Homo sapiens: one gene and its partner. The protein of the gene in region 1 binds, or shares a complex with, the protein of each later gene. Each region holds a gene or a part of one and is shown on either strand. Other genes may lie near its edges.

Region 1 (6,995 bases):
AAAATATTATAAATTTTCTAGTGGTGCTTATATCTACATTTAGCTTTAATATCTTACACCATACTCAAAGTAAACTGGAAAGTTTTCCTACATTAAGATAGTCCTATATTACCTATGAAGAAATATCAAAACACAGTTTCAGGTTAGAGTCATATTGTTATAAATTATCATTTATATTTTTATATACTATATATTAGCTGTATCAAAAATTGTAAAATTTTTTAAATTATAAAAACACATATAATTATATATTTATATATATAACATTTAAGAATAGCTCAAATATGATGCATAAAATAATTCAGGACATTATTGGATCCAAACCCTAATGAAACAATTACCAGCTTGACACCTTCAGTTCATTAGTGCATGTAAATCTTGCTTATCAAAGATAGCTTATTTATACTAAACACACAATATAATTACACATATTTAGCTGTAGAGTAGGTTAAGAATGTGGATGGGTTTCCATTGCATAGATTCAAGGTTTGCTATCACAGAAAAAAGAAGCTAGTGCTTCTATCTTACTAAATTGGAAAATTATTTTTCTCATTGTTCATTCTATCAGTGCCCCCTTTCCCCTCTGTATTTATATAGCACGGGAATGTATAGTTTCTATCAAATAAATCATTAGAAAGGCAATGTTCAGGCCGGACATGGTGGCTCACGCCTGTAATCCCAGCACTTGGGGAGGCCGAGGCGGGCAGATCGTGAGGTCAGGAGATCACGACCATCCTGGCTAACACGGTGAAACCCCGTCTCTACTAAAAATACAAAAAATTAGCCAGGCGTGGAGGCGGGCGCCTGTAGTCCCAGCTATATTGGGAGGCTGAGGCAGGAGAATGGTATGAACCTGGGAGGTGGAGCTTGCAGTGAGTCGAGATCGTGCCACTGCACTCTAGCCTGGGTGACAGAGCAAGACTCCATCTCAAAAAAAAAAAAAAGAAAGGCAGTGTTCAGTGATTGAGTAGCTATGTTAACCTTACTACTGCCACCTATACAAATATGCACAGAATACACAGTAAACATAAACATAGCCCTTTTATAGGTGTTATGGCATTAGAAAATTTGCCATTCTCCCTCTAATTAGAACATATAACCTTGATGGACTATCACTTTTCATGTGATTGGTCGGTAACAGATATAATAAATATGCCAAATACAGTGTTAGTGACATGGTAGCTAAATATTTTCTTCCTGATTCCTTTTTTTGAAGGCAATGATGGAATCTTAACTCCTATCCATTTCTTAATTTTGTATTAATTTCTTAATTTTCTATCATCTGTGCTTTCTGGAAATGTACACTAATAATATATCTATACCTATTTATTTGTGATTTGGCTTTTAGCTCTCATACTGACTGAAATGATTCAAGTGATAGCAAGTGAACATAGTAATTAATTTGAAATTTATCTAGGTTTAAATGAAATTGCTTGCCCAGTTTACACACTTTAAAAAAATTTTTGCAAACCTGATCATCAGCATTTACTTTCCTGTTTAGATTCAAGATTATGAATTGTTCTGTGGAAAAGTAAAAGTAAAAGTAAACATTGAGCTGGATCTCTGAAAGAACTAAGCACGACACTCAATGTGTATTTTCTTCCTATGGTATGTTATCAACAGATGGATAATGAGGAAGCAAACCAGACTGTCTTGTTCTAGTGTCTGGGAGACAACTGACGGCTATCATTTAGTCCAAGTGCCAAGTTGGAATCTTTTCTGGAACAAGGTGGGGTATAAACACAAATATTTTTTTAAAGGCCAAACCAGCCAGGCTTAAGGAAGTTTTTGAACTGTTGTTGACTTCCTGAGGGGGGTCAAAATATAAGAATTTGCTAAATCCAATTCCTAGCATAATCTATGAACTGATTCTAGACATAAAGAAAAATTATTTTCCTTTCTGGCCTTAGATAAAACTTGGTTAATCCTCTTGTTAATATTTTCACAGTATAAACACATCTTTTTTAATAAAAAATTTTTAAACTGACAAATAATAATTATATATATTTATAGGATCCAATGTGATGTTTTGATATATGTACACACTGTGGAATAACTAAACCAAGCTAATTAACATATCTTTCACCTCACCTACTTTTTTTTTTTTTTTTAAGAGATGGTGTCTGGCTATGTTGTCCAGGCTGGACTCAAACTGCTAGTTTCAAGGCATCCTTCCACTTCAGCTGAGACTACAAGTGTGGGCCACTGTACCCAGCTTATTTTTTTTATGGTGAGAACATTTAAAATGTACTCTTGGCTGGGCGTGGTGGCTCATGCCTGTAATCCCAGCACTTTGGGAGGCTGAGGCAGGTGGATCACGAGGTCAAGAGTTTGGAGACCAGCCTGGCAAATATGGTGAAACCCCGTCTCTACTAAAAATACAAAAATTAGCTGGGCGTGGTGGTGCGCGCCTGTAGTCCCAGCGGCTCGGGAGGCTGAGGCAGGAGAATTGCTTCAACCTGGGAGGCAGAGGTTGCAGTGAGCCAAGATCATGCCACTGCACTCTGGCCTGGGCAACAGAGCCAGACACAGTCTCAACAAAACAAAACAAAGAAAGTACTCTTTTAGCTATTCTGGAATATTAAATACATTGTTATTAACTGTGGTCATCGTGCTGTGCAATAGATCACTAAAATTTATTCCTCCTACCTGAAACTTTATACCCTTTGACTCACATTTCCCCTTTCCTCATCACCCTTTACCCCCCAGTCTTTGGTAACCACCATTCTACTCTGCTTCTATGTAAACTCATCTGGTTTTATAAGTGATCAGGGATTTAAGAGGACTTCACTCTTTTACAGTTAAATTTATTTCATATTGGGGAATGATTTTCTCACTTTGTTTCTTACATAATTTTAGAGGATTGAACTTAGAAAAATATAATGTAAGAGTTTTCTCTCAACTATTTTTGATGCTTCCTTACTTTTTGTCCTCTTTCCCCAACTTTAGCTCTTTGGTGGGGAAAATATTATTTCATAAAAGTTATGTTTGCAGTTTTCAAAGTGACTTCTTAGAAGTGAAACTTGGATCAACATTTTTTTCAACCCCCCAACTATAAGAGTTACATTTTCACTTTTGATTTGTTAAAACATACTATGTCTTATAAATGCTTGAAATTTATTTTTAGGCAAGAATTTCAACATTGAATAAAATCTTCCCAAAATTAAGTCACAAGCACTCAAAGGATTGAGGATCTTTTTCTTCCTAAAATATATGTGTGTGTGTGTGTGTGTGTGTGTCTTTATATTTATATACTAAGACCTTCCCTTTCTTGTGGACTGTGTTTTATTGGTTTAAAGTTGCAAGTCCTGTGAAACCAGGCTGAAGTCAGAATTAGAAGGTATTAATTATCATACACACTCCAAGTATCTCAGTCAAGTAACAGGAATAACTGATTACAGTGTCTGGGAGGAAGGCCTGGAACTTGGGGAAGACTTGGAGGGGAGGACTGGATGGGGAAAAGGCCTCAATAGAGAGAACTGGGTTGTTGCGGAGGGGTGACCTTTAACCTTTGGAAGGGCATTTACTAGGGAACAGCTGAAAAGCATTTACTTCGAGGGGGTGGGGGAGAGGAGGAATCTCGTGGAAGTATTTGCTTTAATAGGTCCCGGGTGATTTAGGGATGTTTCGAGTCGGTTGGTCTTGGGGGTGGCGAGGGCTACGCTGGAGGGGTCGCGTCCCAGTCCCGGGGAAGGCGGCAGGAGGTTTTCTGGGTGTTCCTGAAAACTGGGAGTTGGGGGGAAGGGTGGTGGGGAAAGTGGAATTCAGCGTGGATTTGTCTGCGTGTAGGACTATTAGAGGAGGCGCAGGGGAGCCACGCGGTGTATTCCCCGCCCCGAGAGAACTCTGGCTGCGCCTGCGACGGGCACGCCGGCCTGCGCCAAGGCCGCTTTCCCCAGGCGGCGGGCGCTCCCCCCGGCCCGGGCCGCGGCCCTCCCGCCCCGGCGGAGCCGCGCGGTGGATTGTGGGCTGGGGGCTGCGGCGGCCTCCGGCGCTGTCTCCCCGCACCCGACCGGGCCGAGCCGGCTGGGCCGGCGGGGTGAGGGAAAGCAGTGGAGTCGGGAGCAGAAGCGCTAGAGGCAGTGGTCGTGGCGCGGCGGCGGCGGCTCCCCTGGAGGCCGGGGATGTGGGAGAGGCGGTGGCAGCAGCGGCGGAGGCGGCGCTGCGGACCCGGGGGAAACTGCTGGCTGACAGGACACCCGGGAGAGACGTGAGGGAGCCGCCGCTGCCACCTCTCACCCCTGAGTGAAGCTGGGCTCGAGAGGGCGGCCCTGTGCTCCCCGGGCCGACTGGCCAGCGGGCGCGGGGCGGGGGCGGGAACCCGGGCTCGGGCCCGGCCGGGCGCCGGGCGGCGGCGGCCGTGGAGCAGCAGCCTCGGTGCGACGTGGAGGGCTGGAGGCGGCGGCGATGCACTAGGCCTCGCTCAGGGCGGCTGCCCCGGGACCCGCAGGTAGGTGTGCCCCGCGGCCCCCCGCGCGTCTCAGCCCACTCTCACCCCGACCTACAGCGGAGAGAGGGACCGAGACCCCACCCCCTCGGCTCTCCTCCCCAGCCCCAAACGGACCGAGTTTCGGTCACAGCTGACCGGCACTGAAGCTTCCATGCTCCTCTCCGCCACTTCCTTTTTTTTTTTTTTTTTTCCTTTTCACTCTCCCTCCGGGATCGGGGCTGGCAGCTGTGTTCCCTGCCTCCTGTCAGCGACCGCAAACGCCGCTCTTGCCCCTCTCTTATCTTTCCGGGATCCCAGCTCTGGAACTTCCATCACCCCCTTAGACGCTGCCCCCAAACTTTCCTTTTCTTTTTCCAGCCAGGCCCTTAGTCCTATTGGATTCTACTGGAATCGTTAAAACATTTGTTTGTTTTTCTCTCCGGGGAAGGCTAACCCAAAGAGTTACTCAGTATTTTGCATTTTGGCAATGTAGCTTGAAATAATTTGTGCAATAATTTTCTTCAGTTCTGCCTCCTTCCATCTCTGCATAGACAGAAAGGGCAGGCCCTCTCTGCCGTTTCTGCTCTCCCGTCGTTGACTTGGGAACTTTGGCTTGCCAATTATAATTAGCCGTTTGGTCTGTTCATGTGTTGAGTTCAAGATGGTATTTTTAGCATTTTGACTGACAGGCGTTTCAAAAAAAAATTTTTTTCTTCTAACCAGCTTTATTTTTTGGTCTTTATTGAGGCTCTTTCGAAGAATTAAATTGTTTGGACTGTTTTTGTTTTTAATTGGCTGTATTTCTGATTTGTCAAATCAAGGGCGGTCTTAATACTAAACGCCTTTAAGTAATACCGTGATAAATTACTTGTAGTATACCGAGAAATATTACTGCGATAACCTAAACTGCAGATTTTGATGTACATTCACTTTTATAAATCCGAAGGGGAGTTCTAATTGGAAAAAGCACCTTCAGAGCCTAAATGATTTCTAAGCAGTTAAATGATGGAACAGAGGGAATGATGGGATTTGTTTGACTGTATTTGTAGTGTAGTCAGAATCGGATTTCCTAGAAATGGATGTTGATGGTTCGTAGTGCTCATCATTGCTTATGATAGGTTACCAGTAGCTGTAATTGATAGTTGTTTGGGACGACAGTAGATGTTTGCGATTTTATTGTAATTTGGCTATTTTTAAATTATGTTCTGATAACTTAAGAATTATTACACTACCAATCTAAGAGGCAGTCTGAGGATCACTTTTTTAAATAAATGAAAAATGTTTTAATGGGTTTTTAAAATAAAGAATGCATCACAACCAAATCGTAAAGACTGTTTTGTTGTTGATATTCGTATATTTTGTTCTTGTAGAAGTATTGTTACTACAGCATTTGGCTTTCTGAAGTGTTTTTGAAATTAGAATTTAATACTAAAAGTTTACTAGGAAAAGGTGATTACTTTTGCATATGCTTATATTTTCTGGAAAGTTAAAATTGATTTCTGGATAAGATAATTTTTTGTGTCAGAATTAAAGTCAATTCCTATATAGCCCATGAAACGGCAAATTTTGCAGAATTTCTTCATCACACTCTTTTTTTTTGTTTCTTTTCTTTTTTTTTTTTTGAGACGGGGTCTTGCTCTGTTGCCCAGGCTGGAGTGCAGTGGCGCTATCTTGGCTCACCGCAACCTCCGCCTACCGGCTTCAAGTGATTCTTCTGCCTCAGTCTCCTGAGTAGCTGGGACTACAGGCGCCCCCACGCCTGGCTGATTTTTGTATTTTTAGTAGAGACGGGGGTTTCACCATATTAGCCAGGCTGGTCTTGAACTCCTGACCTTGTGATCCACCGGCCTCGGCCTCCCAGAGTGCTGGGATTAGAGGTGTGAGCCACCGCCCCGGCCCCGGCCCATCACACTCTTTTTTTTTTTTTTTTTTTTTTTAATCAACAAAAGTTAATTACAATTCCTCTTTCCTGCTCTTTGCTTTTTAAAAACTGCTTTATTGAGATAAAATTAACATACCATAAAATACACCCATTTAAGGTGTACCACTTGGCCGGGTTCAGTGGCTCACACCTGTAATCCCACCACTTTGGGAAGCCTAGTCAGGTAGATCACCTGAGGTCCAGAGTTCGAGACCAGCCTAGCCAACATGGTGAAACCCCGTCTGTACTAAAAATATATAAATTAGCCGGGCATGGGGGTGAGCGCCTGTCATCCCAGCTACTGGGGAGGCTGAGGCTGGCGAATCGCTTGAACCTGGGAGGTGGAGGTTGCAGTGAGCCAAGATAGCACCACTGCACTACAGGCTGGGTGACAGAACGAGACTCCATCTCAAAAAAAAAAAAAAAATATACAATTCAGTGGTTTTTAGATTAAATAATTGTGCAACCATCACCATAATCTAATTTTAGAACATTTTCATCATTCCCTCAAAAAACCTTTATCCATTAACAGTTACTCCCCATTCTCTTCACCCCACCCCCAGCTTTAGGCAACCACTAGTCTACTTTCTGTCTCAATATTGGCCTAATGTGGGCCTTTCATATAATGCTTCTTGGCTCATAGCT
Region 2 (7,036 bases), on another chromosome or scaffold:
GAAGGTCTACCTGCAACATTTTCTTTGTAAGCCACTATCATCTCTTGTCCAACAACTGCCAACATTTCCCAACTAATTTCCCTAATTCCATTGAACATACCAACAATGTTCATAAAGAAAGGCGAAGAGGATAAGACAGAAATGTGTATCTGTAACAGGAGATATTTTGGTTTTGTTTTGTTTGAGAAAGAGTCTCACTCTGTCACCCAGGCTGGAGTGCAGTGGCGCGATCTCAGCTCTGGAGGCTCCTGGAGGGTGGCACGCCCGGGGAGGGCATGGAAACTCCATGCTCCTTCTCCTACACCTCGCCCTATGCACCTGCTCATCTGTACCCTTTGTAACATCCTTTGTAATAAACTGGTAAATGTGTTATCCTGAGCTCTGTGAGCCACTCCAGCAAACTGAGCCCAAAGAGGGAGTTATGGAAACCCCTACCTGGAGCCAGTTGGTCAGAAATTCTGGAGGCCTGAGGCCCTGACCTGCAGCTAGTGCCTGAAAGTGGGGAGGCAGATTTGGGACTGAACTAGTGCCTGAAGGGAGGCAGGCTTGGGGACTCAGCCCTCAACTCATGGAATCTGATGCTATCTCTGGGTAAATAGTGTTGGAATTAAATCAGAGGACACCCAGCGGGTGTCTGCTGCTTGGTGTGTGGGGAAGAAACCCAACACATTTGGTCACAGAACTCTTCTGTGGTCATGATTGTGGTGATGTGAGAGCATAGGAAGCACACAGTTTGCATTTTTCCCAAACAATGCCATAAAATATATACAAACCTTTCCATATGGTAGATCACAAAGAAAAAAACCTCATTCTTTTTTTTTTTTTGAGACAGGGTCTCCCTCCGTCGCCCAGGCTGCAGTGCAGTGGCGCGATCTCAGCTCACTGCAACCTCCACCTCCTGGGTTCAAGCGATTCTCCTGCCTCAGCCCCGAGTAGCTGGGATTACAGGCACGTGCCACCATGCCTGGCTAATTTTTGTACTTTTAGTAGAGAGGGTTTCACCATGTTGGCCAGACTGGTCTCTGACCTCAAGTGATCCACCCGCCTCGGCCTCCCAAAGTGCTGGGATTACAGGCGGGAGCCACCGTGCCCAGTCGAAAAAACCTCATTGTTAACCAATTATGAGGTCAGAAAAGGAAATCAAAACTGAAATTGCAGCATGGGTAAAATACCAAGAAAACACTAAATTGGTAAGGGCTTGGTGAATTCTATGGATGAAATGGATAATTTGCTACAAAAATAGGATTTACCAAAATGGATTGCAAAAAACAAGAAAACAGAAACAGAAAAACTAGAGAATGTTGTGAAAGAAAGGTCCTACTCCCCTTTCCCCTCCACACAAAGGCATCTGGCCCAGATGTCCAGGGGTGTTGCGGCGGCTTGAAGGACAGCGCCTTCCAATTCTCTGTGTAAACACTGCCCCAGCAGAGAAACGAGAACAGCTCTCACACAAACTTGATGGAACAAACATAACACTGTTATGAAAACATAACAGAAATACCTCACATATACACATTCATATCTCTTATGAATGGAGATGCAAGGATGAATTAAATAAACAAATGGAGATGCACAAATAAGCAAACAAAATCCAGCAGCATATTAAAATAATAATTGATAAACACAAAAGGGTTTTTGTTTCATGAATGCCAGGATGACTCAAAATTAGAGGATCTCATAATAATTTGCCATGTTAATAGATATTTCAACATCTATTCTTGATTTTTAAAAAACTCTCAATAACATATGAGCAGCTAAATATTTCCCTGACCTCCAAAACTCAGTATCATGTTTACCGAGGCAGTGCTAGAAGCACTCCAATTAAAGTCAAAACATGGCAAGGACAACCTTGATTGCCAATGTTATCTACATTGTTCTGGGGCATTAGCCAACTCAGCTAGAGTCACGAGATGTATTATGGAGATACACAAATTGGAAAGGAGGGAGAAGTATCACTATTTGCAGATGATATAATCAAATAAATAGGCCAGCCACGGTAGCTCATGCCTGTAATCCCAGCACTTTGGGAGGCCGAGGCAGGCAGATCACTTGACGTCAGGAGTTTGAGACCAGCCTGGCCAACATGGTAAAACCCTGTCTCTAGTAAAAATACAAAAAGTAGTTGGGCGTGGTGGCAGGTGCCTGTAATCCTAGCTACTGGGAAGGCTGAGGCAGGAGAATCGCTTGAACCCTGGAGGCACAAGTTGTAGTGAGCTGAGATTGTGCCACTGCACTCTAACCTGAGTAATAGAGCAACACTCTGTCTCAAATAATAATAATTGAATAAATAGAAAGCCCTAAAAAAAAAAAACAAAAAAAAACACCCTGTAAACGTTACTATAAACAATAAGAGATACCACTTTTCACTTCTCAGATTGTCAAAGATTGAAAGAGGTATTCTCTTCTTTGCTGGTGGTTATGCAAACTGATCAGCATTTACAAAGAAGAATCTGGAAATATCTAACTGCAATCACTTGTGAGCCTTCACACACCCACACCTGGTCTGTGTGTGGCTCTGGGACTGTAGGAATGTTCTCCAAGCAACACTGGGAATCTACCCCACTTGGGGAGACAGCTGGAAGGGTGAGTAAGGAGAAAAGCATTGATGTCAATTTGACAAGAAACAAACAGAAACAAAAAATGCAGGAAAAAAATATTAGAGAAAATATAAGAGAAAGAACTGTCTGAGACAAAGAATCTACAGGGCTCACATCTGTAGAGCTATTAAGGGATTTTTTAAAAAATTACATGGAAAGGTAGATTACGTATCAGCAAAATGGACTTTTCATTTTAACAACACAGTCCACAAGAAAGGATCATTTAGCCCTCTTAGAGATGATTTCATAGAAAGGAAGGTTACTAAGGAATAAAATCACATGATGTGAAACATCTATATTACTTTTGGGACCATAGGGACCATTGCCTGCATTTTGTTGGGGAAATCATAATTATTTTGAGTTTCTTTGCTTGAGATAGGGTCTTGCTCTGTCTACAGGCATGGTGATGCACACTTATAATCCCAGCTACTCAGGAGGCTAAGGCAGGAGAATCACCTTAACTGGGGAGGCGGAGGTTACAGTGAGCCAAGATGGCATGCAGTGGTGCAAACACAGCTTACTGCAGCCTTGAACTCTGGGGCTCAAGTGATCCTCCTACCTTAGCTTCTGAAGTAGCTGGGACTACACACAAGCGCCATCACACCCGGCTAATTTTTTAATTTTTGTTTAAATTTTGTGTAGAGATGGGGTCTCTCTATGTTGCCCAGGCTGGTCTCAAACTTCTGGGCTCAAGCAATGCTCCCACTTCAGCCTCCCAAAGTGCTGGGAGCACAGGAGTGAGCCACTGTGCCTGGCAAGAAAATTTTTCTTGCCAATTCATAGATGGTGAACTAAAGGACATAGCAAAGGCAGCGCTATGCAGTGAAAAACAATAAAAGCAGAGCCGAGGCTGAGGTTCGTAAAGGGATCATGGGCTACTGATCTAAGGGAGACAGACAGAGGCTTGGCAGTTGATGAGGCATTTGGTCTTCACCCAGTGAATTACTGGTTTTGTTTACAGGCCATGTGACACAATCTCCTTCCAGGTCTGCCAAAAGCTACCATGAAAAGAGCAGACTCTTTTGGTAGTGGGTGTTTGAGCCCATGACACTTAGGGGCTACCTCAAGAAGGAAGCTTGAATCCAACTTCTAAAGGGTAAAATCCAAACACTAAGTTGTTAGGAAAATAGAGTAAAAGAAAACCCAACAGTGCTGTGTGCTGTCATTGTCGCTGCCTTCCCAGCCATGGAGCCATTACACTGGAGATAAAAGTTGTACCATATCCAAAAACAACAGTGAAAGCATCCACACCATTCAGTCACAAAGACTACACTGTTTATCTTTGCATTTCAAGCTTGTTAAGAAAAGCAGGCTGGGCACAGTGGCTCACGCCTGTAACCCCAGCACTTTGGGAGGCCAAGGCAGGTGGATCACCTGAGGTCACCTGCCTGACCAACATGGTGAAATCCCGTCTCTACTGAAAATACAATAATTAGCCAAGTGTGGTGGCAGGTGCCTGTAATCCCAGGTACTTGGAAGCCTAAGACAGGAGAATCACTTGAACCCCGGAGGCGGAGGTTGCAGTGAGCCGATTGGGCCACTGCACTCTAGCCTGGATGACAGAGCAAGACTCTGTCTCAAAAAAAAAAAAAAAAAAAAGCTTGTTAAGAAAAGCAGTTTGTAACCAGGGAGAGTGAAAGCCATCTGGATGCGAGGATGTTGGCTACCTTGGGAGGGGACTGGGTGGTAACTGGTAGGAGGCTCAGGGGGCTTTGCTGGTTATGCTGTTTCCCGACCTGGATGCTGATTATGTGACTGTGCTCCCTTTGTGAAATCCATGGAGCTGTCCACTTATGTGCACTTTTCTGTATGTCTGTTAATTTTCTTTTTTTTTTTTTTTTTTTTTTTTTTTTTGAGACAAGGTCTGGCTCTGTCACCCAGGCTGGAGTGCAGTGACACAATCTTGGCTTACTGCAACCTCTGCCTCCCAGGTACAAGCCTTCCACCTCAGCTTCCTGAGCAGCTCGGACTACAGGGACACAACACCACACCCAGCTAATTTTTGTATTTTTTGTAGAGACAGGTATAACCTGTTGGCCAGGATGGTCTCGAACTCCTGAGCTCAAGCAATCTGCCTGCCTCTGCCTCACAAAGTGTTGGGATTATAGGTATGAGCCATAATCCCACCTGGGCTCTGTTAATTTTCAGTGAAATGTACTGTCAAAGACTGCTTTGTCTTTGCCTAGAGAAAAGAATTAGGAGAGGCTTTTCCCTGTATAATGTTTGAGATCTTTCTAATTTTGACACAAGTAAATGCATTATTACATAATGAAACTCAATGTCTAGGTGAGAGGTTGGCAAACTACAGCCTGCAGGCCAAATCTGGCTCAATGCCTGGTTTTCTTTTTAATTGGGATATAATTGACATACCAATTCAGTGGTTTTTAATATGTTTAATATATTCACAAGGTTGTACAACCAACCTCACTACGTAATTCCAGAACATTTCATCATCCCCTAAAGAAACCCTGTAACCCTTGGCAGTCATTCCTTATTCCCCCACTCCTAGAACTTGGCAACCATTAATCTAGTTTCTGTCTCTATGGATTTGTCTATTCGCTACAGAATACATTTAACAGAAATGGAATCATAGGCATATGAAACATTAGCATGTTTCCAAGGTTAATCTATGTTGTAGCCTGTGTCAGTATGTTATATCTATTTTTATGGCTGAATAATATTCCACTGTGTGGATATTTGTTTATATTCATTCAATTGATGGCCATTTGGATTGCTTCCACCTTGTGGCTATTATAAAAAGTGCTGCTATTGGCCAGGCATGGTGGCTCTTGCCTGTAATCCCAGTACTTTGGGAAGCCGAGGCAAGCGGATCACTTGAGGTCAGGAGTTCAAGACCAGCCTGGCCAACAAGGTGGAATCCCGTCTCTAGTAAATATACAAAAAATAAAAATAAAAAAATTAGGCGGGTGTGATGGTGCACACCTATAATCCCAGCTACTCAGGAGGCTGAGGCAGGAGAATCGCTTGAACTGGGGAGGCGGAGGTTACAGTGAGCCAAGATGGCACCACTGCACTCTAGCCTGGGTGACAGAGCTAGACTCCATCTCAAAAAAAAAAAAAAAAAAAAAAACACTGCTATGAACACTTGTGTACATGTTTTTATGTGAACATGTTTTCAATTCTCTTTGGTATATTCCTAGGAGTAAAATTGCCGATCATATGGTAATCTTGTGTGTGGTTTTGAAGAATGGTCAAACTGTCTTCCACACTGGGTGCAGCATTTTGTGGTTTGGATTTGCATTTCCCTAAGACCTAATGATGCTGAGCATATTTATATGTGCTTTTCGGCCACTTGTATGTTTTCTCTGGAGAAGTGTCTATTCAAATCCTTTGCCCATTTTAAATTAGGGTTATTTGTCTTTTTAGCCCTGAGCTAAAAAACGTTCTTTTTATGTTCTGAACACTAGATTTTTATTAGATAACTAACTTGCAAATATTTTCTCCCATTCTGTGGGCTGTCCTTTTATTATTATTTATTATTATTATTATTTTTGAGACGGAGTCTCGCTCTGTTGCCCAGGCTGGAGTGCAGTGGCGCGATCTCGACTCACTGCAACCTCCGCCTCCTGGGTTCAAGCGATTCTCCTGCCTCAGCCTCCTGAGTAGCTGGGACTACAGATGCCTGCCACCATGCCTGACTAATTTTTGTATTTTTAGTAGAGATGGGGTTTCACCATATTGGCCAGCCTGGTCTCAAATGCCTGACCTCAGATGATCCACCCGTCTCGGCCTCTCAGAGTGCTAAGATTATAGGCATAAGCCACCGCACCTGGCCTTTTTATTTATTTATTTATTTTTTGAGACTAGGTCTTGCTCTGTCACCCAGGCTAGAGTGCAATGGTGAGATTATAGCTCACTGCAATCTCCAGCTCCTGGGCTCATGTGATCCACCCACCTTAGCCTCCCCAAGTAGCTGGGTTTATTCTAACAAGTGTGTGCCACCATACCCAGCTATTTTTTTTTTTCTAGATATCGGGTCTCACTATGTTGCACAGGCTGGTCTCAAACTCCTGGGCTCAAGTGATCCTCCCACCTCAGCCTTCCAAAGTGCAGGGATTACAGGCATGAGCCACTGTGCTCAGCCCCATCCATTCCTGCCAGTGCAGCTGGAGGAATCTATTCAAACCAGAAATCTGAGCACATCACTCATTTGTTTTAGCTCTCTGTGGATAAAAGCCAAATCCCTAATACATTCTGGAAGGTTTCTAGTTAAACTGCACATCTACTATCTGCCTGGCTCTGCCCACATTCTGCTTCCCCTCCTGCTACCATAGATGAGCTCCCGGCCCTTTGCTGAGGCCGATGCCTCCATCCCTGCTCTGTTCCACCCCCCTCCTTCCTGAGGACCTAGTTCCTTTCTCATTTTTCTCTCTCTCTTGCCCAATCAACACACACTCCATGCTACATTACTTTCCTGA

Evidence for each region. The genes of interacting proteins can lie anywhere in the genome.
Region 2: VPS54 (region 1) and VPS51 share a complex: the UniProt entries of both Homo sapiens proteins name them as parts of the golgi-associated retrograde protein (GARP) complex.

The regions. Positions count from the first base shown.
Region 1 is NC_000002.12:64,016,393-64,023,387, reverse strand, and holds the start of VPS54 (vacuolar protein sorting-associated protein 54), read left to right. Parts: upstream 1-3,959; 5' UTR 3,960-4,450; intron 4,451-6,995. UniProt on the Homo sapiens protein: Acts as a component of the GARP complex that is involved in retrograde transport from early and late endosomes to the trans-Golgi network (TGN).
Region 2 is NC_000011.10:65,099,178-65,106,213, reverse strand, and holds part of VPS51 (vacuolar protein sorting-associated protein 51 homolog), read right to left. Parts: intron 1-7,036. UniProt on the Homo sapiens protein: Acts as a component of the GARP complex that is involved in retrograde transport from early and late endosomes to the trans-Golgi network (TGN).